Linked DNA regions of Homo sapiens. The protein of the gene in region 1 interacts with the protein of each later gene in a pairwise test. Each region holds a gene or a part of one and is shown on either strand. Other genes may lie near its edges.

The links. Proteins that work in one complex are often made in the same cells at the same time.
Region 2: the proteins of GPA33 (region 1) and NSG1 interact in binary tests that used the Homo sapiens proteins (3 or more experiments, as listed by UniProt).
Region 3: the proteins of GPA33 (region 1) and NRSN1 interact in binary tests that used the Homo sapiens proteins (3 or more experiments, as listed by UniProt).

Annotation. Positions count from the first base shown.
Region 1 is NC_000001.11:167,087,361-167,094,350, forward strand, and holds the start of GPA33 (cell surface A33 antigen precursor), read right to left. Parts: upstream 3,018-6,990; 5' UTR 2,928-3,017; coding exon 2,885-2,927; intron 2,052-2,884; exon of another isoform or gene 1,963-2,051; intron 1,325-1,962; exon of another isoform or gene 1,240-1,324; intron 1-1,239. UniProt on the Homo sapiens protein: May play a role in cell-cell recognition and signaling.
Region 2 is NC_000004.12:4,382,129-4,390,115, reverse strand, and holds the start of NSG1 (neuronal vesicle trafficking-associated protein 1), read right to left. Parts: upstream 3,015-7,987; 5' UTR 2,943-3,014; intron 2,513-2,942; 5' UTR 2,487-2,512; coding exon 2,358-2,486; intron 2,131-2,357; coding exon of another isoform or gene 2,010-2,130; intron 1-2,009.
Region 3 is NC_000006.12:24,122,362-24,129,228, reverse strand, and holds the start of NRSN1 (neurensin-1), read right to left. Parts: upstream 3,015-6,867; 5' UTR 2,889-3,014; intron 1,102-2,888; 5' UTR 1,029-1,101; intron 1-1,028. UniProt on the Homo sapiens protein: May play an important role in neural organelle transport, and in transduction of nerve signals or in nerve growth. May play a role in neurite extension. May play a role in memory consolidation.

The sequences.
Region 1 (6,990 bases):
CAAACTCATTTAGTACCTATAATAGCCCTGTTGGGGCACAGTGTGAATTTTACACCCCTCCATTTCAGACTAGAAGACTGTGCAAGAAGACTTTAGCAAAGTGAAGCCATTTGCCCACACCATAGTCAGTTAAGAGGCACTGGGGTCAGCCCCCTTTGGTCCCCTGGGATGGCAGTGGAGTGTTAGGAGGGACGGGTGGAACATTTCCCAGGCATGGAGGTCTGTTTTGTCACTGACTCTGTTTAGAATTGTCAGCACATGATAATCATAAAAAGCAGACCAACGGTGGCTCACACCTGTAATCCCAGCACTTTGGGAGGCTGAGGCGGGCTTATTGCGAGGTCAAGAGTTCAAGACCAGTCTGGCCAGCATGGTGAAACCCTGTCTCTACTAAAAATACAAAAAATTAGCTGGGCATGGTGGTGCATGCCTGTAATCCCAGCTACTAGGGAGGCTGAGGCAGGAGAATTTCTTGAACCTGGGAGGCGGAGGTTGCAGTGAGCTGAGATCACACCACTGCACTCCAGCCTGAGCAAGCCAGACTCTGTCTCACACACACACACACACACACAAAGCAGACCAACTTTTAGTCGGTTTTATGATTGCTTTTAAACTCCCTACTTTAAAAGCACGGCCTTGCGTTTGTGCCCCCTGCATGGAACCTTATGAATAGCTTCTGCTTCCTCCAACACCACTTGAGTCTTGAGGCCCATTCATCAGTGCAGTGCTTCCCTGCCCAGGTCTTAGCAGAATCAATTCCTCGGAAAGGTCAGATGGGAAGAGAAAGAAGAGAAAAGCCCAGTAAGTCCTCTGGAACCCAAGTCAAGCTCCACCTCCTCCAGGAAGCCTTTCCTAATGTCCCTGCTCCTAACTGGGTCTCCCTTACCTGCGCAAAGGAAGAGGTGGTATCCTCTCATGAGGCATGGTGGGGAGGGCCGCCTGGTTGCTTTTGGTCGACCTTTGAAGGTCTTCCTTGCTCACCTGCAGTGGCAATGGCTATTTCACTATTTGGTAAACTCTGTTTATATACCTCAAGTCGACCACCAAGCCTGGCTTCTCCTGCCCCACTGCTCTGGCCCCTTCTTCCTCTTAATGTAAGATATGGAGGAAGAAAAGTTGGTGGGCACGTGATTCTGTGCTGGGCAGGCTGTGGTGGGAGGGATGGGGCGGAGGTAGAAGACACTTCATCAGTGTGTCTGAAAACATGCCCAAGACTCGTTCTGCTGGGTGAGTTCCCCAGGGGTCACTTGCCTTCTCATAGGAAGAAGCAAAATGTCCTGCTCCAGGCAATTCAGAGTTACGGCCACTTTTCCCTCCAAGCTGGGTGAGCATCTTGTTTTAAGATCGTTTTTCTAAGCCAAAATTTCTTATTTTTATTCATGCATGGGTCGCAGCCAGTCTACAAGTGTGGGGATATGTGTTGGGGGTTGGGGTGGTGCAGGCATGGAGGAGCTTCTGGCTTACCAGGAGAAGATGGGAGAATCACTGGCCCAGCCAGGGAAGGATGGGTATTTCCTTCAGCCTCCCTCTCTCAGGCCCTGGAGCATCCTCCCTGCCTGAATCTGATGGCTGAGATAGGCCCACTTATGACTAATCATTCCAGACTCCTCACTTCTATGGCACCTGCACAAACTATGTGCTCAGTAAAGAGTTGTTTGGATAAAGGAATGAGCCAACCAGTCCATCTTGGTGGATGATGAGGGGCTTTCTGCCTTCAGTCAGATGAACTTGAGCCAGCCTGAGAGAATGATCTTACCCAGATCTTCCTCCAAACCGTGTGATCCAGCCCTTCCCCAGCAGCAGGCTGCCCTTCCCTCGAGAGCCCCAAGGCCAGGTGTTGAGAGAAAAGCATGTCTAGGGCCTGGGAGAACCAGAATGAGCTGTAGGCCCCGTGGCCCGGGGCTTTCCTGTGTATGCTAAAAAGTGAGCTCTAAACCAGTCTCCTGGTTTCCACTTCCCCAGGCTTGGTGCTCCTGAGTTTCCTGGTATAGCTCTTCTCCTCCCCGTTGCAGCTGGATCCTGGAAGCCCTCAACAGTGTCTGAATTGCAAGGTGATGGCCAAATACACTAAACCAAAGATATTCCTAAACTTTGCCAAACCCTGCGTCTCTCAACTTCCTTCTCTCCATTCTATTTCCTTCCAATGCCCAGCAAAATGGTTGGTACCTTAATGCCAAGACTTTCATTCTAACCCTTAGACACTCCATAGGTCCCCACAGAACACTGTGCTATTAAGCACTTGATGTGGATTCAACCATATACTCATGAATGTCTGATTTTGTTCTGGGAGGTTTCCCTCCCAGAGGGAAATGCTCAGAGTCCCAGAATTTTCAATGACCAGGGTCCCAGAAGTGGCAAGGAGCTTTGGCCTTTGGAAAAGACCCATCTAGTTTGTTGTTTGTTTTTAGGGTTTGAATCTTCTCTTGCTCTGTGAATGATACGGGATAAGTTGCATTGTCTCTTCTGCCTCAGTTTCCTGTCTCTTTCTCTGGTTTTAACACAAACGTTAATATACTAGATAATGAACATATCTAGATCCACACATCCTGGATTTTCTAGGACAACTCCGATTTCAAATACTTTGTCCACATTGTCAAATCCTGTGTCTGATCCTATAATCTAATTTGGGATAAGAAAATATGGTCTTGAGAGTACTTTGAATTCTTCATTTCAGCAGTGGGCTAGAATGTTATTTACTAATATGTAAATAAAAACCATTCTGATTCTGGGCACTGGTCCGGAATGTGTAATTCTGGCCCAGCAGGAACGCAGCTGTGTTGCTGGAGGCCCTTCCTGGGAAGGCTCTGACAGAGCCTCTCCTTCAGCCCTAGGTCCCCATGTCTCACCCACCCCTGGGCACTGGAGAGAAAAGGGGCCTACTCACCTGCACAGAGTGTCCACAACACAGGCCACATCTTCCCCACCATGGTCTTGCTTCTTCTCTGCCCTAAACCTAACCTGTCACTGGCAGCCTCCAGACAGGTCTGAGCTGTCTGGTTAAAGCTACAGCAGCTTCTGGCCTGGCCCAACTGGAGGTCCCTGCAATTTTCCCTCTTCTCACCCACCTCTGCCCAGCCTCAGCTGGATTGGCAGGTGAGCTCCTCAGCTGGATTGGCAGGTGAGCTGGGGCTGGGCTCATGTGTCACCTACTCCAAAGGTCCCAAGAGGAGTCTTCCCTACTTCCCTCAAGTTCCCCTTAAACCAGCCACCTCCCCTGCCTTCTCCCTACTTAACAAGTGTACAAAGTCCTAGACTGCTCACAAAGGGGTAGGCCTCTCTTATAACTGACAGGAAATAAATAATAAAAAGGGAAATGCACTCAGAGGTAGGGTTCCAAGCTAGTAAAAGAAGGGTGTTGCCCATATTTGCTGAAACACTTCAAGACACAATGTGATCTGTTTCTCTACTTCTCTCCTCTTCTACAGCCTCCACCCCACAGTGCGCAAGAGATATAGTCATGAAGAAAACAGGAAGTCTCCCCCTTCAGAGTTTATATTCTGACTGGGAAAGTAGCAAGTTCATAAGTGAAAGAAGATCATCTTGGGGACATGTGACCAACTTGTCTCACTTTTCCTAGGACTGTCCTGGTTTTCAAACCAAAAGGAACCCCCTCAGTCCCAAGCAAATTTGGATGATGGTCACCCTACTGAAAGAATGATCAGTGGTGTGGGACCATAATTCTCCAGGAGCAGTGGCTGTTGCTGGTTTCTTCCATAGATATTTTAGATATATATACACTGTTCTGCAATGATTTATTCATTTTTCATTTAATGAAAGGTTTTAGAAAGCTTTCTGTATCGGTATGTATAGCACCACCACCATCATCTTTTTAAAATGGGGATGATATTTCACTGTATATGAGTGACATGATTTATTTAACCAAACTACTTTTAAGATTGTTTTTCCTCATCTTTCACAACTATGAAAAGATTGCAACCAATATCTATTATGTGTACGATATTTCACACGTGTTGTGATTATACATGTAAGATAAATTCTTAAAAGTAAAATTTCTGACTCACTGAAAGTTATGCATATTTGTAATTTTTATAGATATTGCTAAACTAGCTACCATGAGAATTTTACAGCCTACACTCCTATTAGCAGCATATAAGGATACCTATCTCCCCACACACTCACTAACACAGTTACCAAGTGTTTATGACACAGTTATCAAACTTTCTGCTCATCGCCAATCTAAGTGAACATGATATCCCATGTATATATAATTTACTTTTTAAAATTATTAGTGAAATTTGGCCAGGCGCGGTGGCTCACGCCTGTAATCACAGCACTTTGAGAGGCCAAGGTGGGCTGATCACGAGGTCAAGAGATCGAGGCCATCCTGGCTAACACGGTGAAACCCCGCCTCTACTAAAAATACAAAACATTAGCCAGGTGTGGTGGTGTGCGCCTGTAATCCCAGCTACTTGGGAGGCTGAGGCAGGAGAATGGTGAACTCGGGAGGCAGAGCTTGCAGTGAGCCAAGATGGTGCCACTGCACTCCAGCCTGGGCGACAGAGCAAGACTCTGTCTCAAAAAAAAAAATTATTAGTGAAATTGAAAATCTTTTAATATAGTTGCACATCATATATATTTTCTTTTCTGAGACTAGGTAGCTCATTTGCCCGTATTTCTTTTTTTAATAAATTTTTAAAAATATAGACACAGAATCTCGCTACGTTGACCAGGCTGGTCTTGAATTCCTGGGCTCAAGCAATCCTGCCTCAGTCTCCCAAAATGCTGGGATTACAGGCATGAGCCACCACGTCCAGCCGTTTGGCCATATTTCTATTGAGCTGTTGATCTTTAGCTTGTTGACTTCTAGCAGATCTTTGTATATTAGGGAAAGGAACTTTTGGATGTGATAAGCATTGCAAATATTTCCCCTAGCATTTCTTTGTGTTATGAATTCATAGTATCCTACATGACTTATTGTTATTAATCCTTTTGACTGCTAGGTTTGGTTGACATACAAAATTTGTTGTTTTCTGTTTATTACATTTCACTCAGGCACCTTGTTAATTCTCTTATTATATGTAATAATTGTTCAGCCCCAACATTTTATAATATCTTTGCCAAATTAGTCTTCCTAATTACTTGTCTGCTTGGGTCCTATCACTGACTCTGCAGAACCTAACAAATTAGCTTTTAAGGTATTCTAGCATTTGTTCTCAAACACAGTCTACCTTCCAGAATACGTAATTTATGCTCTGACCAAGTTAGACATATTTTCATACCCAGAACTCATACTTCCTTACCCCCAAAACTTTATTGATGCCACCCCCTCGGTAATTCCCTTCCCCTACTATATCTGCTATTATAATCTTACTTGTCCTTTAGAAGTCAGCTCATATATCACCACTGCTTCTATGAAGTCTTTCCTGATTTCTTCAGTCAGAAGGGCTCTTTCTCACCTTTGAACTCACACAGCACTCTGGATCTCTTTTAGGACACTAACTACATTCTCTCTTATGCTTGAGTTATTTTTGGTCTGTGTCTCATTCCTCCTAATAAACAGTGAGCTCATTCATTCAGCCATTTCTAATGATACGATATACCAGGCATCATTCCACCTAACTAGGAAGAAAGACAACTTTAAGCTATGTGTTTTGCCAATTTTGGTCAAGTAAAGTGTCATATGTAGTAGGTAATCAATGAATATTTTAAGTTGGTAAATGGATGGATAAATGGATGAAAGGATGACTATGGTATGTGTGGGATGAGAGGTGTGGGCTATTTGGCTTTGCTTTGATCATTGTGATGGTAGAGGGGTTAGTAGGGTAAGACAGCTTATTTGACATTTATGAAGCTCATGGAATTCTTAAGTCACCCAGGGTTGCCAATCCATTATCACCTTGGGGTGTGAGTAGAGGGGAGGAAATGTGGAGGGTGAGCACAACTGTCCAGTTGACCATCCTGAGACATGTCTATTAAAAGAAATGCAGGCAGGGCACGGTGGCTCACACCTGTAATCCCAGCACTTTGGTGGACGGAGGTGGATGGATCACTTCAGCCCAGGAGCTCGAGACCAGCCTGGGCAACACAGTGAGACCCCATCTCTACAAAAAATTTAAAAATTATCTGGGTGTGGTGGCATGTGCCTGTACTCCCAGCTACTCAGGAGGCTGAGGTGGGAGAATCACCTGACCCTGAGAGGTTGAGGCCGCAGTGAGCTGTGATGGCACCACTGCACTTTCACCAGGGCAACAGAGCGAGACCCTGTCTAAAAAAAAAGAAAAAGAAATGTAATCCTGGTCACAAGCAATGACTACTCTTTAATTGTACCACAGTGCTCTCCCAATATCTATCTGTTGAGTACCCTTTCCATTCTATATATCTGGTCCTTTTTTTAGGCCTCTCTAGTTGACATGCGGCTGTGGTAAGTTTGTTTATTCTTCTATATCTTTGGATTTAGACTCTCTTCTGGAAGAACTTTGAATAGGCTGTCCCAGGCAAGAGGGTCTGAAGAGAGAACCCAGAGAAAAGCTGTTCTTTAGATTCTCCATCTACCAAGCACAAACGTCTTCCAATTCTGCTGCTAAATGTAAGCGTCTGGAGAATCAGCCAGGAGGGAAAGAGTTAAGTGAGGACTGCTTTGGGGCCTGGGTCCAGAGCCTGCATTCCTTCCTCCCAGAAATCTGCCAGCCTATGGGGCCAGAGGCTAAATTTAGAGGGTGGCTAAGGTTTCCTGTTAACAGCTGTCCTGCCCCTAGGAGAAGAAGCCCTGAGGAAGGAGGTGGCTGGTTCCTGTCTCACTGGCCGGAGCTTCAGCTTCAGTCATTTCATCTGGGTCCCTCAGCCCTTGGTGGGGAACATCCAGGCAGGTTAGAGGTGAGTGTGCTTCTCCCCTTGTCAATCCTGGTGAGCCCAGGACTTACAATACAAGGGGCAGCGGCTTTGCCCTGAGTGTCAGGGCACAACCATGATGGCTGGGACCAGCTGCTGGTATCCTTCATGTCCTTTAATAGGCTCCAGGATGACGCCTGA
Region 2 (7,987 bases), on another chromosome or scaffold:
ATGGGAAATAAGGCTACTGCTGAGGATGAGGAAACCCATGGAAACCTCTCCCGTATGTGGGGGCCCCATCAATATTCTGTCGACCTGGATTCTATCCCCACCTGCCACTAACAGGCTAGGTGACCTTGGGCAATTCTCAAACTCTCCGTGCCTGCATTTCCACATCTGCAAAATGGGGGTAACATGGTAGTGACCTCATGGCATTATCAACACATTAAAAGAATTTAAACCTGTAAAACTGGCAGAATAGTTCCTGGTGCAGAATAAGTGTCTGGCAAATGTCAGGGGAGACCAGCCCTGACTCTGCTGCCAGCACTGTGACTGCTGTCACCGCTGCACCCCAGCACCTCAGCACTCCATACACGTTCTCAGAACAGATTCTCATTTATAACCCAACTGTGTCACCACCCCTCAGAAGCCATGTCACCTGAAACAGGTGACATCGCCTCCCTGAACTCTGACCGTTAGCAACACGTTGCTGTTGTTCAGGTTAAGAGAGGTCTTACGTGAGAGACATCTGGCTCCAAGCACAGTGGAGTAAGAGGCACTGCCAGAAACTTCTGCATCCTGGAGGACTGTAACCTTCAGCCCAGTGACCTTGGGTATGTCCCATAAATGCTCTGAGGCTCAGTTCCCTCATTGTGACCTTAGAAGCCTTCTGGAAAATGATCCCAAGAGCCATAACCCTTGTACCCACACTCAGTCCCGGCGGGAAGTCCGGGATGGAAGGTCTGGCTGGACCCGAGAAGAGCATCCCTGCTGGCTGCCCCGCTTCGGACGCTTGCAGAGAGAGCAGACTCATCACCTTTCCGAGCTGCCTAGGCTACTCCTGGTCGACCTAATTAGTTGGTGAGGATTTCATACCTGCCTGAAACCCTCCTCCCTGTATAAACCAACTGTGCCAAATGGTTCTGGAATGGAACAGACTGAGGACAAGAGAGGAGGCTCAGGCCAAGTGAGGGGAATCACCTGATAGAGGTGCTGCCTCAGGACACGGAGTTCCTGGCACAGGCGCCACTGCTCCTCAGCCGAGCAGCTGGGGGCCCAGGCAGGAGGGGGTGTGGGGGCCTCGGGGCCAGGCCCCGCTAACTGGACGAGTCTGATGCCTAGACAGGGAGGGGTGGAGTGGAAGCTGAGGCCTCAGGCAGCCCTGCCCCTCCTGCAAAGCCTAGCCTGGACCATCAGTGGCCCAGAGTGGCACCACCGTGGCCTGGGGGGCACAGGTGTGGCCGGCTGATCCCCCTTTCTTGAACTGAAACCCCCGCTGCCAGCCTCTTCCCGGCTCCTGCCTCCCTCCCCAGACGACACACACAATAAAGCTGGGAGGACACCTTCACAGGGGTCAGGGCCCCCACCAGGACACCCCCACCCCACAACACCCACCCCGTCAGCAATCACCAACTTGCTGGAACGAAGACAGAGCCCTGGCTCAGAGCCCCTTCACCAGGGACTAAATGAGAAAATAAATAGAAAAGCACTTCCGGGAATTATTCGTGGCTGTGGTGGTTCGTAAGCGGCAGCAAGATGCTGAGAGTAGATGCTGTGTCTATGGTCTTAGATGTGAATTTTACAGTACAATTGCCTAGACATGCAAAGATCTATTTACATTTTTAAGTGTTAACTCTTGGAAATATTATTCTTAGCAAACAGAAACTACTTAATTGGATGCTACATTCAAAAAGAGGAGATTCTTTAAATTCAGCAGAAAACACTTTGGGGAAAGGTTGATGAATGGTTTTTCCCAGTGACACCAATACTGAGCGAGCCCGGGCACTTATTTGGAGATTTCACAAAAGGAACAAAGAGGAAGGAGACCCTGTGTGAGCGCGCACACCCTCCTGCACCTAGCGCCAGCCTGGCAGGGGCAGGCAGAAAGGGCGAGAACAATTCAGCCCTGGGGAGGGGCCATCTGACCAAGGAGAACGCTCCCCCGCCTCGGTGGGGCAAGTCGGGCTGAACTGCCACACCCGGGAAGGTACAGGGGCAGCCTCGCCCGCCCCTAGGCTCACCCCCGATCCAGAGCCCCTGGGGCCACGGGGCAAGGGAGGAGCAGGGCAGCTGCGGGGCCAGGGCCCTCTCGGATGAGGCTCCCAGGAAAAACGCGAAGGAATCTTGCCCCACCGCGTTCCACTGTCAGGACGAGAATATCATCTAAGGCAGGGCTCCCCTCCCCCGCCCAGCATCCCGCGATCCAGAATCCCGCGCGGGTACACTGTCCTCGCCGCGCTCCCTCCGGCCTCCCGAGCCCGCCCCCACTTCGCGTACCCAGCGCACGCGGCGCGTTTCTTTTGTTGCGCCCGCCGTGCGAGATTTGGGGGTGCACACCCGGCAACGTGGAGGGGCGTGGGGGGGCTTACCTTATCCGGGGGCGGGAACTGCAGCTGATTGACATCGAGGGGCGTCATCAGGGGAATGGTGTCGAAGCCATCCTCCAGCAGCGGCTGCTTGGTGCCCTTCTCTGCGAAATTGTTCCCCAACTTCACCATCGTTCCGGGAGCTCCGAGGCTGCAGCCTGCGGCGGGAGGGCCGGGGGGAGTCACCACAAGCAAGACCCGGGGCGGGGCGGGGGGGAAGTGGGCACCCACACCCACCGGCGTCCCGGCGTCCGCGAGCTCCCCGGCCCCGCTTCGTCTCGGGGAGGGCTCGTGGGGACGCGGTGGTCACGGCCCGATGCGGGGGTCGGGTGGTGCTGTGTATTTCTAGACCCTCATCTCGCAGGACCCAAGCGCCGGGCGCAAGGGCGCACCGCGGCCAGGGAAGGGGGCGCCGCCCCTGCCCAGCACCTCCAGACCCGGTCCCCGGTCCTGGGGCCGCCGCACCCGGGCGACCCGCTGTTCACAGCCCCGTCCCGCGTACTCCGGGAGATGGGCATCCCCCGGGCACTGCTCCTGGGCGGGCAAGGTCTGGCCTCGGCAAGCCCAGGCGCGGCCGGCCGCACTCACCCACGCCCGGCTCCGGCAGGTCAGCTGAGCGCTCCGAGCTCCGCGTCTCCTGCTCCTGCTCGCAGCAATGGCGGAGGCGGCGCCGCGCGCGGACCCGGGAAGGGGAGCGAACGATTGGGCTCCACGGCCGCTCCCTCCTCCTCGCGCCGCCGCCTCCCTTCCTGCCTCTCCCGGGGGCTGGGTGCGCGCGGGTGGGTGCGCGCGTGTGGCCGCGCCTCCACCTTGACGCAGCGCCCGCCCGGCCGCACAAAGGAGTGCGGGGCTGGGCGGGAGCCTCCCCTGGGACCACGCGCCCGCCCTGAGCCGGGGGAGGGAACAGGGGAGCGGGAGAGGACGCGCCCCCAGGGGGTCTCGGAGCGGCGGAGGGCGCCCGGAGCGGGAGGGCTGCGGGCTGCGCCACCCCGGGCGGCGGCCTGGGCGCGAGGCGCTTAGAAAGGAGAAAGGGGAGGCGGGGACCGTAGGGACAGAGCGACCCCCAGGGGTGCGGGGAGGTGCAGAGAGGGTCCCCGCCCGCAGCGCGCCGCGCTCACCTGGGGGTCCTGAGGACGTTCAAGGGTTTGGGGGGATGGGTCCAGGAGGCGCTGGGTGGTGGCGGAGACCAGAGCAGGGTGCTCCTTAGTGCTGGGTTGGGGAGGGGGCGACCAAAAGAGGGCGCGTCCGCGTATAAAGGGGGCGCGGCCCGTAAAGGAGGCGCGGCCCGTAAAGGAGGAGGAGGTTTTCGGTGGTGCGGGAGGCGGAGTAGCGCTCTCCCAGGGCTGGGGTGTGGGCGCCCAGGGTGAGGCTGCCCCAGGCAGCGGGAGGGAAGTCGTTCTAGGCAAAGAGCGCTCAGTGCGCCGCTTGGAGGGAGGCGGAAAGGTTCCTCCGCTCTGGTTGGCAGAGAAGGTGGAGGTCCCACTGCAGCCGCCGCCCGAGCATCCTGGGCACAGAGGAGGGGCCGCTGGGACGATGCCCGGACGCGGAGAGAAGGGGGGTGGTTCTAGCCCGACCTGCGCCCCCAAACCCCGAGCTCAGCCGCTGTCGCGGCTTCCCAGAGAGGGTCCTGTTTGCAGACCTCCAACCCGTCCTGCCTGCAGGACTCACGGATGAAAGACTATGGGGTGTGGGGGCGAGGCCGAAATGGGAGTGGAGCCCGCGCGGGAGGAGGCCGGCTGCGGGGATCGGTGCCTCCTGGGCACCTGGGCCAGGAGCTGGGCCCTGTCAGGCGCTGGACGAGGAGGAGGCATCACCCAAATTCGATACTTTTTCACACCCTTTCCGGGGACTTCCCCGCGGCACTACGGAGGGTCCGGGGCGTTTTCCATCAGCCGTCTGAGAATCCTGGGAATAAGCCCAGAGCACAGGAGCAGCCACCGCCTTGAGCCCCAGGCACAGCCTGGGAACTTGCCGCGGGTGCCCTGATTTCAAAATCCCCAGGAGGGCTAGCCGTCTTTGACAGGTGACCTAGTGGGTATCTCGTAACTCGCCCCAACTCTCCAGCCAGGGTCTAAGTGTGCCTTTGACCACAGGCCAGCCTGGTCTGAACCCAGGCTCCTGGCAGAGGCACCCCGCCCCCAACCCAGGGAAAGCGGGTGTCAGACTCTGGCCCCTGCCACGGGCCTCGGGGACCCACAGAACCCACCTTTTTGGCACTTTGATGCCTCCCTGAAGCAGGTGAAGAAGAGAAGATTTCTCTTGCTCCACTTCAGAAATCTGCCCAGGCATCTGCCATGAGAGTGACCCACTGGTCAGGAGAAACCCTTTGGGCTTAAGCAAGGAAATGGCTTTCCCGCACCCCCCCCCGCCCCGCCCCCCGTCTCAGGCTCAAGCATTTAACAGAACCCAACACACACGCGCGCGCGCAAACACACACACACACACACACACACACACACACACACTTGGTCAGAATTCCACACCAGGAGGAACAAAGTGGAGGCCCTGCCCCTCCCTTAGAGACTCTGTCAACTGAGGAGGACAGAAAGGCAAGAAGGACCTAGGTTGTCCCAGAGATGGACGGTGAACAATCATGTTTCTCTGCTAGCTGGCCTTTTGTGCTGTCTTGGGTCTTCACTGGTGCTGGTCATTGGGACTGTTTCATCCTGTGGTTTTCTTCCTCTGCTGATTGTATCTGGGCCCTGTGAAGGGCATGGACAATGCAAAATGCATGAGACACAGCGCCACCCGCAGGGAGCTACGGACAAGGGCAAGTCTTTGCTGGGAGCAGTGGCCCTGTGGGAGAGTGGCCTCTGCCTCTTGCCAGGAGGGAGGACATCCAGAGACTGTGGGTAAAGACTGTGGATAAAGCTTCCTACAGGTGGGCCTGAGAGAGGTGCGTGCAGAGGGGAAGGCATTCCAGGTAGGAGAACAGAATGTGTTAAGACAGTATATGAGCTTCCTGCCACTGTTGGAACAAATTTGGCTTAAAACAATAGAAACATGTTCTCTCCTGGCTTTGGAGGCCAGAAGTCTAAAGTCTAGGTCCCAGCAGGGCCTCACTCCCTCTACAAGCCACAGAGAAGAACCTGTTCTTTCCCCCTCCAGCTTCCAGTGGCTCCAGACATTCTTTGACTGTGGCTGCATCACTCCAATCTCTGCCTTCATGTCACTCCAGTCATATTGCCTCCTCCTCTTCTCTGTGTCTCTTATAAGGACACTCATCATAGGATTTAGGGCCTGCTGGGATAATCCAGGATAAGGTCTCCCTCTCAAAATCCTTAACTTAATCCTATCTTTGCCATATAAGATAATGTTCACTCTTTTACTATGTAAGGTAAATCAGGTTCCCGGGGTTAGCATGTGGACATATCTTTTAAGGGTCGCCATTCAGCTCACTACAGGCATTAAGCTTGCAAGGGTGTGGTGATTTGGAGAACCCAAGTCATTCACAGAGGGTGGCAGAAATTAGGTTGAAGAAGCCACAGCCACCAAAATGGGGATGGCTGAGGCTGCAATGGTGGTTGCAGGTCAAACAGATGTCAGGTATTTTCACAACATACAAAAAGGGAAAATCAATGGGATGCGATCTCCCCCTGGACCAGTTTCATCCCAGCACCAACAATTTAAAATCCAAGTGCCACAGAAGATTGTTGACACATACTCAGTTTTTCTAAATGACTCTTTTTTTTTTTTTTTTTTTGGGACGGAGTCTTGCTCCGTCGCCAGGCTGGAGTGCAGTGCCGTGATCTCAGCTTACTGCAACCTCCGCCTCCCTGGTGCAAGTGATTCTCCTGCCTCAGCTTCCTGAGTAGCTGGGATTACAGGCACGTGCCACCACTCCCAGCTAATTTTTGTATTTTTAGTAGAGACGGAGTTTCACCATATTGGTAAGGATGGTCCTGATCTCCTGACCTCGTGATCCACCTGCTTCAGCCTCCCAAAGTGTTGGAATTACAGGAGTGAGCCACTGCACCTGGCCCTAAATGACTCTTTTAGGAATACTTCCAGGGTTGCTGATCTCAGGCACAGACCCATCACTGCCTGTACGATTGTAACTCCTACCCTGCTCCCTCTCCTCAGGGCAGCCAGGCGCTGCTCTCTAATGACCCTGGTACTTCCAGGTCCAAGCGTTTTAGCAACTTCCCTTGTCCCACTGGTTGAAGTCCAGACTGTCACAGCAAGAGACAATGTGACACAGTGGCTAAGCCGTGGCCCGATTTTGAATCCTGTCCCTCTCTTCCTAGCAGTGTGACTTCAGGCAAGCTGCTTAACCTTTCTATGCTTCAGTTTCCCCATCTATAAATGGAGATAATGAAACCTCCATCAGAGCAGTGTTGTGAGAATCAAATGAGCTATTCTTATTTTTTTAAGTGCCTGTTTTAGGTATTACTATTGCTTTGACCTCTAATTCTGTACTCCTGTGGTCTCTATTCTTAGCAGCCGGTGCTGGAGCCAGGGCGAGGTGATAGACACTTTTCCTGGTTATGTGACAAGTGTTCAGAGTGACTAAGGTGACTCTTCCCCTAGAGGCCTCATGAGCCTCTTTGCAGGTCACAGAAGTCAAATGATGAGTCCCCGGCCACAGGCTTCCCTGCAGAGCTGGGATGGGTTGCAGGATCTAGTCAGGCCTCCCACAGCCAGCCAGATCTCCAGGATGGATGAGGTCCTGCTGGGAGGGTGGCCACCCAGTGCTGTCAGCCTATGGAGGTTCAGTGGCAGGTGATCAGCAGAGGTTCTGCTCTGTTTTTCTGCAGCCTGGCCACGTCGATCCAGCGATGCTTCATCCAAATGTCTTGTTTTTAGATTGAGATGTAATTCACATGCCACAGATATCACCAGTTTAAAGTATACGCTTAACTGGTTTTAGTATATTTACAAGGTTGTACAATCATCACCACTAATTTCAGAACATTTTCATCACCCCGTAAAGAAACCTGCATCCCACAACAGTCACTCCCTGCACACATCCTCATCTCTGATGGTTTTAAGTTTCTTGGGTCCACTTCTCAATCCACGGGACCAGCCGGCACGCTGGGACCAGCCGGCACACTGGGATCAGCCGGCACACTGACACAGAATCGGGAGAGACATTAGGCTCTGGATCTTTCTGCAAATGGGACAATCCATTTGCAATGTGAAGAATCAGCCCACCTGGGTGAAGTCATCCCTGTTTCTCCTTAAACCCTGTCCTGTAGCCAAATTCTCCATTCCCCCAAGTGCCTGCCTCCAGGCCTTTGCAAATGCTGCTTCTCTTGCCTAGATTGCCTTCCCCACTCCTCATCGATTTTGCAAACTGCTCCTCATCCTCCAAAGCCCAGATCCAATGTTGCCTCCTCTTTGAAGCTTGGCCTTTCTTTATGCTCCTCTATCCCGGAGTCTGGGTATTTACATTTCTATATAGATCATGAGCAAATCAGGCAGAACCACTTAATCTTTCATTTCCATATCCCCCCTGTCTAGAGCATGGCCTGGTAATCAGGAAATGTTTGCTTAATTGAATAGGCATCCACTTAGCTTACATTCACAGTAAAGTAAGACATGAACATCAGAGGTGTAAATTCGAATTCAAGTGCATAGTAAGAAAGTCAGGTCAGGCCTGGTGGCTCATCCCTTTAATCACAGCACTTTGG
Region 3 (6,867 bases), on another chromosome or scaffold:
ACACTCATGAAGCAATAAACATAACAAAATGGGCATCATCAAGAGGTAAAGGGAGTACAAATGCTGAGAATTCCTTGAATAATTCCTGTATTAGGGAAACAAGCTCATGAATGTGCTATTGTGATATCACTATGTGTGCCAATAGACTGTAGTATCAATGTGTTGGAAATTTAAATTTCTGTGTAATATATGCAGTTACTTTTTATTTTCCTTTATAAATGTTCATAGCCTTGAAGCAGAAATAAATCTTTATGCCTCATGAAACTCTAAGAACATTACAGACATTATATTCTTTGTCTTCAAGGTCTCCTTGAGAGAAGAGAGGCAACAAATATGAGTGTTTTCCTGTGACACTATGTGTGAGTCAGTTGTGAGGCCAGGCACAGGCCCTGTTCTATTTATTTTCTTTGAAATATCATTCAATTTTTCATGCTGCTTTTCTCTCCCATAAAATGATTCTGAGATAATGAGACTGAGGTTCCCATTATAGCCACTTTTCCACAGGGCCAGTGCTGCAAAAGACAAAGTACAGGCACATAGACAATTTAGACCACTTATTCAACACCAAGCCGAAAGGTCAGTTCCTTAAAAGATTCAGTCAGACTCATAGGGGATACAGGAAGGCATGAAAGCCTGCTAACAGCTTTTTCACTTTTAAATCAGGCATTCTGAAATTATATAAGCATGTTCTTAAATCCTGAACCGTGTTCCTACCAATGGATTATTTCAGAGATATTTTATTTTTCTGAAACAGTGGTAGAGATTGTGGCTTTATATTGAGTTATTAAAATACCTTCAAAGTCAGTGGACATGCAACCACTTTTATAATTTTTAAAAAGGAGTAACAATGTAAGATTATCTTACTTGTTATCATTTACTTTAATTCTTCAAGATTCATTTTTTAGAAAGGTACATAAAATCCAAAGCTAAAATGAGAAAAGAACCCATATTCTCTTTTAATCTCTTCTTTATCTACATGCATACACAGGGTGCTTATGAATCTACATGTGATAAGGTTTGAGTCCTACCTTTGAAGTCCTCTTTTTCTTCTTCTTCTGGTTTACTCCTTGATCTTTCCTTTTAATGGCGCATTCTTCAATCCTATTTAAGAAAAAAGTCTCTGCAGAATGTAATCCAGATCAAAATCTAAATTTCATAAGTCATTCATATAACTTATAAAGAATCATTTTAATGTTCACAAAAGCATTGACAAAGAAATTCGTGTTTAAGAATTGAGATAGCTTTCTAAAAAACAAAAGTCTAAACTGTATTTTAGAACTTTTCAATGGGTTCTCATAATAATTTATAAAGTGAATGAGATGACATAAAAGGGCTTTGTAAATTATAACACACTATATATGTGCTATTCTCATTTTTACATAACCATATTCCATGTTGTTAGTAATTCCAAATAGGCTGGTCCATTTCTATTTTACAAATTCTAAATTTAAAAAAGTTCCTTGCTTCCTAGATACTTCAGAATGGATCTTTTTTGGTGCTTGGTCTTATAATGTAAAATATATGAGTCCTATAATCACTATATTTTCTGATATGTTTACATACATTTTACACTTCGTAAGGCTCTTTGGATGATTTACTTATTAGGCTGAGTTTTACTCCTATATCCGTTTTCTTCCTATCATGATCATTTTGCTTTCCAGCTGCCTAAGAAAAGCAGGTGCCCATGCAAAATTTGATTAAAAAGCCATTGCCAACTATAAGGCTGTTGGTTTCCTACATTACTCTAGTTATGTGAAATAAGATAATAACTGGGACCATATTTTTTATGGGATCATTAAGAATTCTTTCTAATGAACAGGTCCCCATTTGTTTGCAGGAGAACCTGAAGACTTGAGGTGAGTAAGCCTAGCTGAGGCCTGATAAACTGTTTTCAGCATTTCTAGGGTCAGCCTATATGGACCAAAGCCAAATCGTCAAGACCCATTTACTTTCCCCCAAATTTTGTGAGTGGTGTGTGGGCAGATTTGGGGGAAAGAAGCAAATTATATTAGCCTCCTGGATCTGGATAAGCAAACGAAAACAAGCCAATCATAGGTCACTAAATTCACTACATTCTCCTCTTCTTCCCTCCCCCAACACCTGCCCTCCACCCCCATCTGTATCTCTTTCTTTCCTGTCTCTCTCTGCCTCTCTGAATTACATTTCTCTTCTTTTTTCTGTCAGCTTCTCCATTTTCGCTGAAGATTCCCCACATGCCCTTCACCAAAGGCTGGCCTGATGTGGCGCCCAAGGAGCTCTCCAAGGTTCTGAAAACATTTCTGTTACAGTGCCAGGAACCAATCAAACAAACATTAGCTGTTAAATTCCAGCTCTGTTTTCTTTGAGGCCTCCAGACTCTGTCTGACCCCCACCCTAATGTTCCTGTCTAACAACACAAAGAAGTAGGTCCTGAGATCACGCCAAAACACTGAAACATCTTCAGACGTGGCACAGGAGTGGGGAGGGCCAGTGGGGGCTCAATTCAGCCTGATAAATAAACCAACTTTGCAAACTCTAGATACATATATTTGACTCTTTCCTAATACACAACTTTTCTTATCTTATGGAAAGGAAACTCTAAAGTTTTTAGCTGTACGCCCCTCGTGCCCCACCCCCCAAATTCTTACATAACACAAACCACAAACCACCAAAGCATGGAGCTAGCTCTTCCTAATTTGTATGTTTTCACCGATTTTAATACGCATGTTTTTTGTGGAGATTGGTGCACATATAATAAACGTGAATGAAGGAGGGAGGGAGAGAGAGAAAGAACATTTATGCATGAAGAAGGAGGAAGGAAAGAGAGAAAGGGAGGAGAGGGAGAACTGGAGAAAGACATTTGGAGAATAGAAAGCCGCCACCCCTGGACTCTGCGTGGCTTTACCTACCCCCTCCGATCCCCTGACCCGTGGAGCAAGTGCAGCCAGCCTAGCTGCAGATCTCTCGCTGGGGTCCCATCGCCGTCGCCACCGCCGCCGCTCCGCCTCGTAGAGCTCAGCCCGCGCCTGATTGACAGCTGGGAGTCCCGCGTGCCCGCGCACCCGAGGCCCGCGCAGCCGCCGCCGCCGCCGCCGCCTCCCCCTCCAAAGGGGCAGGGTTCCAGCTTTCCGAGAGCGGCGAGTGGGCGGGGCCGAGCTGTCTGGCGCGCCAGGCTTGTTCCTGCCTGCACCGTGAGGCTGGAGCTTCTGTTAGGGCAGCTGTCAGGGCCATGGAAGGCTGGTCACTGGGCCCTGCCGAGGCTCCCCAGGATGGGCACCTTCTCTGCCTTAGTGCTTCTTCAAAGCTTTTTTCTGCCCAGACCATATTTTGGTCGTAGAAGGCTGGTTCAATATACAGTTAGGCGTCGCATTATGATGGGGATGTGATACTCTGAGAAATATGTGGTTAGGCGATTTCGTCCTGCTAACATCATAGCGTGTACTTTCCCAAACCAAGGTGGTTCAGCCTACTACACACCTAGCTATATGGTAGAGCCTATTGCTTCTAGGCTACAGACCTGTACAGCATGTTACCCTCCTGAATACTGTTGGCAGTTGGAACACAATAGTAAGAATTTGTGTGTCTAAACATAGAAAAGGTACAGTGAAAATACCTTATGGAACCACCGTCATACATAGAATCTGTCGTTGACTCCAACATCACTGGGCAGTGCATGACTGTACATATTTTTAAAATGAGTGAAGAGGCAGATGGTCATGATGTGTGTTTCTTCCACTGCCACCCTATTAGAGATGTTTTCTGTCCCTGATGGGACACAAGGTGAGGAGCTTCTCTTTGCTGGTAGAGCACTGCCCAAATGAAGAACCTTCTCACCTCTTTGAATATTGGGTAGTTTTAATCCTCACTCTTTCCCTTACCCTACCGTCAGGAAGTCCAAATGGGTTTGATGAAAGAAAGATGAAGAAAATAAATTAAATTATGACGTTCAAGAAAAAAGCACAAATGCATAAAGGCAAGAACACATTAGAAAATTACCCGCGAATGCCTTAGAAAATGTGCACAGTTGTGGGCAAGTTAGTGTATAAATACAATAACCTCTGCTTCAGGAGACTTTCTGCAGACCTCTTGTAAGTGGCATTTAATGAGAATAATTACTAAAATAGTTAATATTTGCATGGCTATACTACACATAATAATAATAATACCTAACATTTACATAGTGCTGACTATATGCCAGGCATTGTGTTAAGTACATTACATATATATTAATTATATGTATATTATATCATTTAATCCTCACAGCAACCCAATGTGGTGGGCATTCTCTGATCCAGATTTTACAGAAGAAGCTGAGGTACAGAAAAGTGACACGCACTCAACGGTGATACAGACTCACAATTACTTGTCGAAGGTCATATAGCTACTAAATCTGCAATCTGCAAGATGATCTCCTGGAAAGGGTTAAGGATATAAGTGATATTTTGCCCATTATTTCCTCACTTCCACATAGGTTTCAGGAAAAAGCCTAAAAAACACTAAGAAACACCTCTGTCTTGTTAAACAGTGGGCAGACCAAAGAAAATTGTTGAACCAATGTTTAGGGGGCCACCAAGGACAGGGATGGCTTTGTCTTGTTTCTTCCTCGCGTCCACAACTCTAGCCCAGCCCTCTTCAACACAGCTTAAATATATAGGTGCCACTTATTTCTTTCTCCCTTCCCAGCCTGCATAAAAGTACACCTTTCATGAATTTTAACATATTGCTTGTTAGCTTGCAGTGTGTGGATCCATTGAACACTTAAATGTGGCCGTGTATGTTTTTGCATCCTTGAAAGTCTGTAAGAATCAGCACATATATAAAATTCCAGGGGCTCTGAGCTGCTCTTGTATCAGAGATTAGGCTCCAGGAAGGGAAATGTCTGCCTCGTTGGTGTCTGCTAAGTGTCCTGATCTCTATTGGTAATGCATCTGTTCATTCAGAGGGGTAGTCTAATTAAGACTTACAGTTGGAGTTGCCTCACCACTCTATGCCCCACTTTCCTCATCTATTAAATGTTTCTAATAATACTTAATTCATAGGCTAGTTATTAGAATTAAATGAAATTATATTGATAAGACATCACAGTATCTGGTACATAGTAAGTACTCAATAAATTCTAGCTATTATTGTTATATTATTATTGCTATTTTAATTTTACTATGATTTAGCTAAACATTTTAAAAGCCGCTGAGTATTTCCAGTTTGGAGTCTCAAGAATTCTAAGTTTCCCAGGCACTTATCATTTGCTTTATCTCTTCTTTTGCCAGATTCGGTTCCAACTTGTGCCATCTCTGGCCCCTCTGCTGAAGTTTCCAATAATGTGGAAATGCCTGTTGAGGAAACTGGGAGTAGCACAGGTCTTCTAAATTCCACCAGTACATCTGCTTTTGGCTCACTCTCAACGAAGTAACTGGTGAGATAAAATAAAACATGGTTCACATACCTCAAGATGCCTTTAACATGTGAATTATCACCATTATTTTGCTTTTCACAAATCATAGTTTCTATTTATTAGTTTTGCAAACATTAAGGAACAAAGATGATTACTTTGAAGCAACTGTTTTGACTTAGAACACACCATACAATTTCCTTGGGTTATATTATATGGCAACACTTAGCAGTGAATAGCTTATTAATTTATTATTCAACACACATTTGTTGAATGTCTGCCATTTAGAGCACAAAGGGCGAGGGACAGACAGAAGCATATGAAAGTCCCAGAGAAGAGGGGTCAGGAGAGGCTGTGGTTTCCCCCTGGGTTGTTTTCCAGAAGGGACACTGTGATTAGTCAGACTGCTTTTCTTTCTTTCTTTCTTTTTCTTTTCTTCTTTTTTTTTTTTTAGACAGAGTTTTGCTCTTGTGCTCTTGTTGCCCAGGCTGGAGTGCAATGGTGCGATCTCAGCTCACTGCAACCTCCTCCTCCCGGGTTCAAGTGATTCTCCTGCCTCAGCCTCCCAAATAGCTGGGATTACAGGCATGTGCTACCATGCCTGGCTAATTTTGTATTTTCAGTACAGATGAGGTTTCTCCATGTTGGTCAGGCTGGTCTCAAACTCCCGACCTCAGGTGATTTGCCTGCCTCTGCCTCCCAAAGTGCTGGGATTACAAACGTGAGCCACCGCGCCTGGCTGGCAGGCTGCTTTTCTAACCTCATATCTCATGAATCTCTATTTCTCATCACACTGAACATATCTGGTGTTCTTCACGCACACTTTGCAGCTTTTTTCCCCCCTTCTATTTACTTCAGTGGTTCTTTTCGTTTCTTTCTGCATATCTGTGTCCTCATGTGCTACCTGTTCTTCAAGTCCTGGCACAATTGTCACCTTTTCAATAAAACCTTTGATGTGCTTCAGTACAACTCTTTGTTCTTTGTTTTGTACTCCTAAGCATCTAGTTTCACCTGTGTTAGGGTACTAACAGGTTTTCTTTTTCTTTTATTTTATATTGGAATTATTTTGGTATCTGTTTGCTCTCCGATGTTAGGCTTATAAGCATCACAAAGAAAAGACTTGCCCACAATTTACCTAGTATTCCACGCAATGACTAGCACATTGCTTTGTACAAATTAAGTACTTATTTTTGGCAAATGAATAAATTAGCAAATGAATAATGTGGATCTAGAGACAGTCCTTGATAGGTGGGTAAGATTTGGATAGAAGGAGGCGGGAAAAAGCATATTATGACAGCTTTAGGGCATGAAAAGTACAAGATTCAGCTTGCAAGCTCAGGTCCCAGGTTCGTTCCTGGAATCCAGGGTGTGTAAGAGGAAGATGGGACAGTGGTCAAGAAGGAACTCCATTCAGTTCCTTCATTCAGCTGATGAAAGGCAGAGGCTCCAGCCATATCGTAGTGACCTTTATTGCTCCTCTGATGACTGCAGCCTGGTCA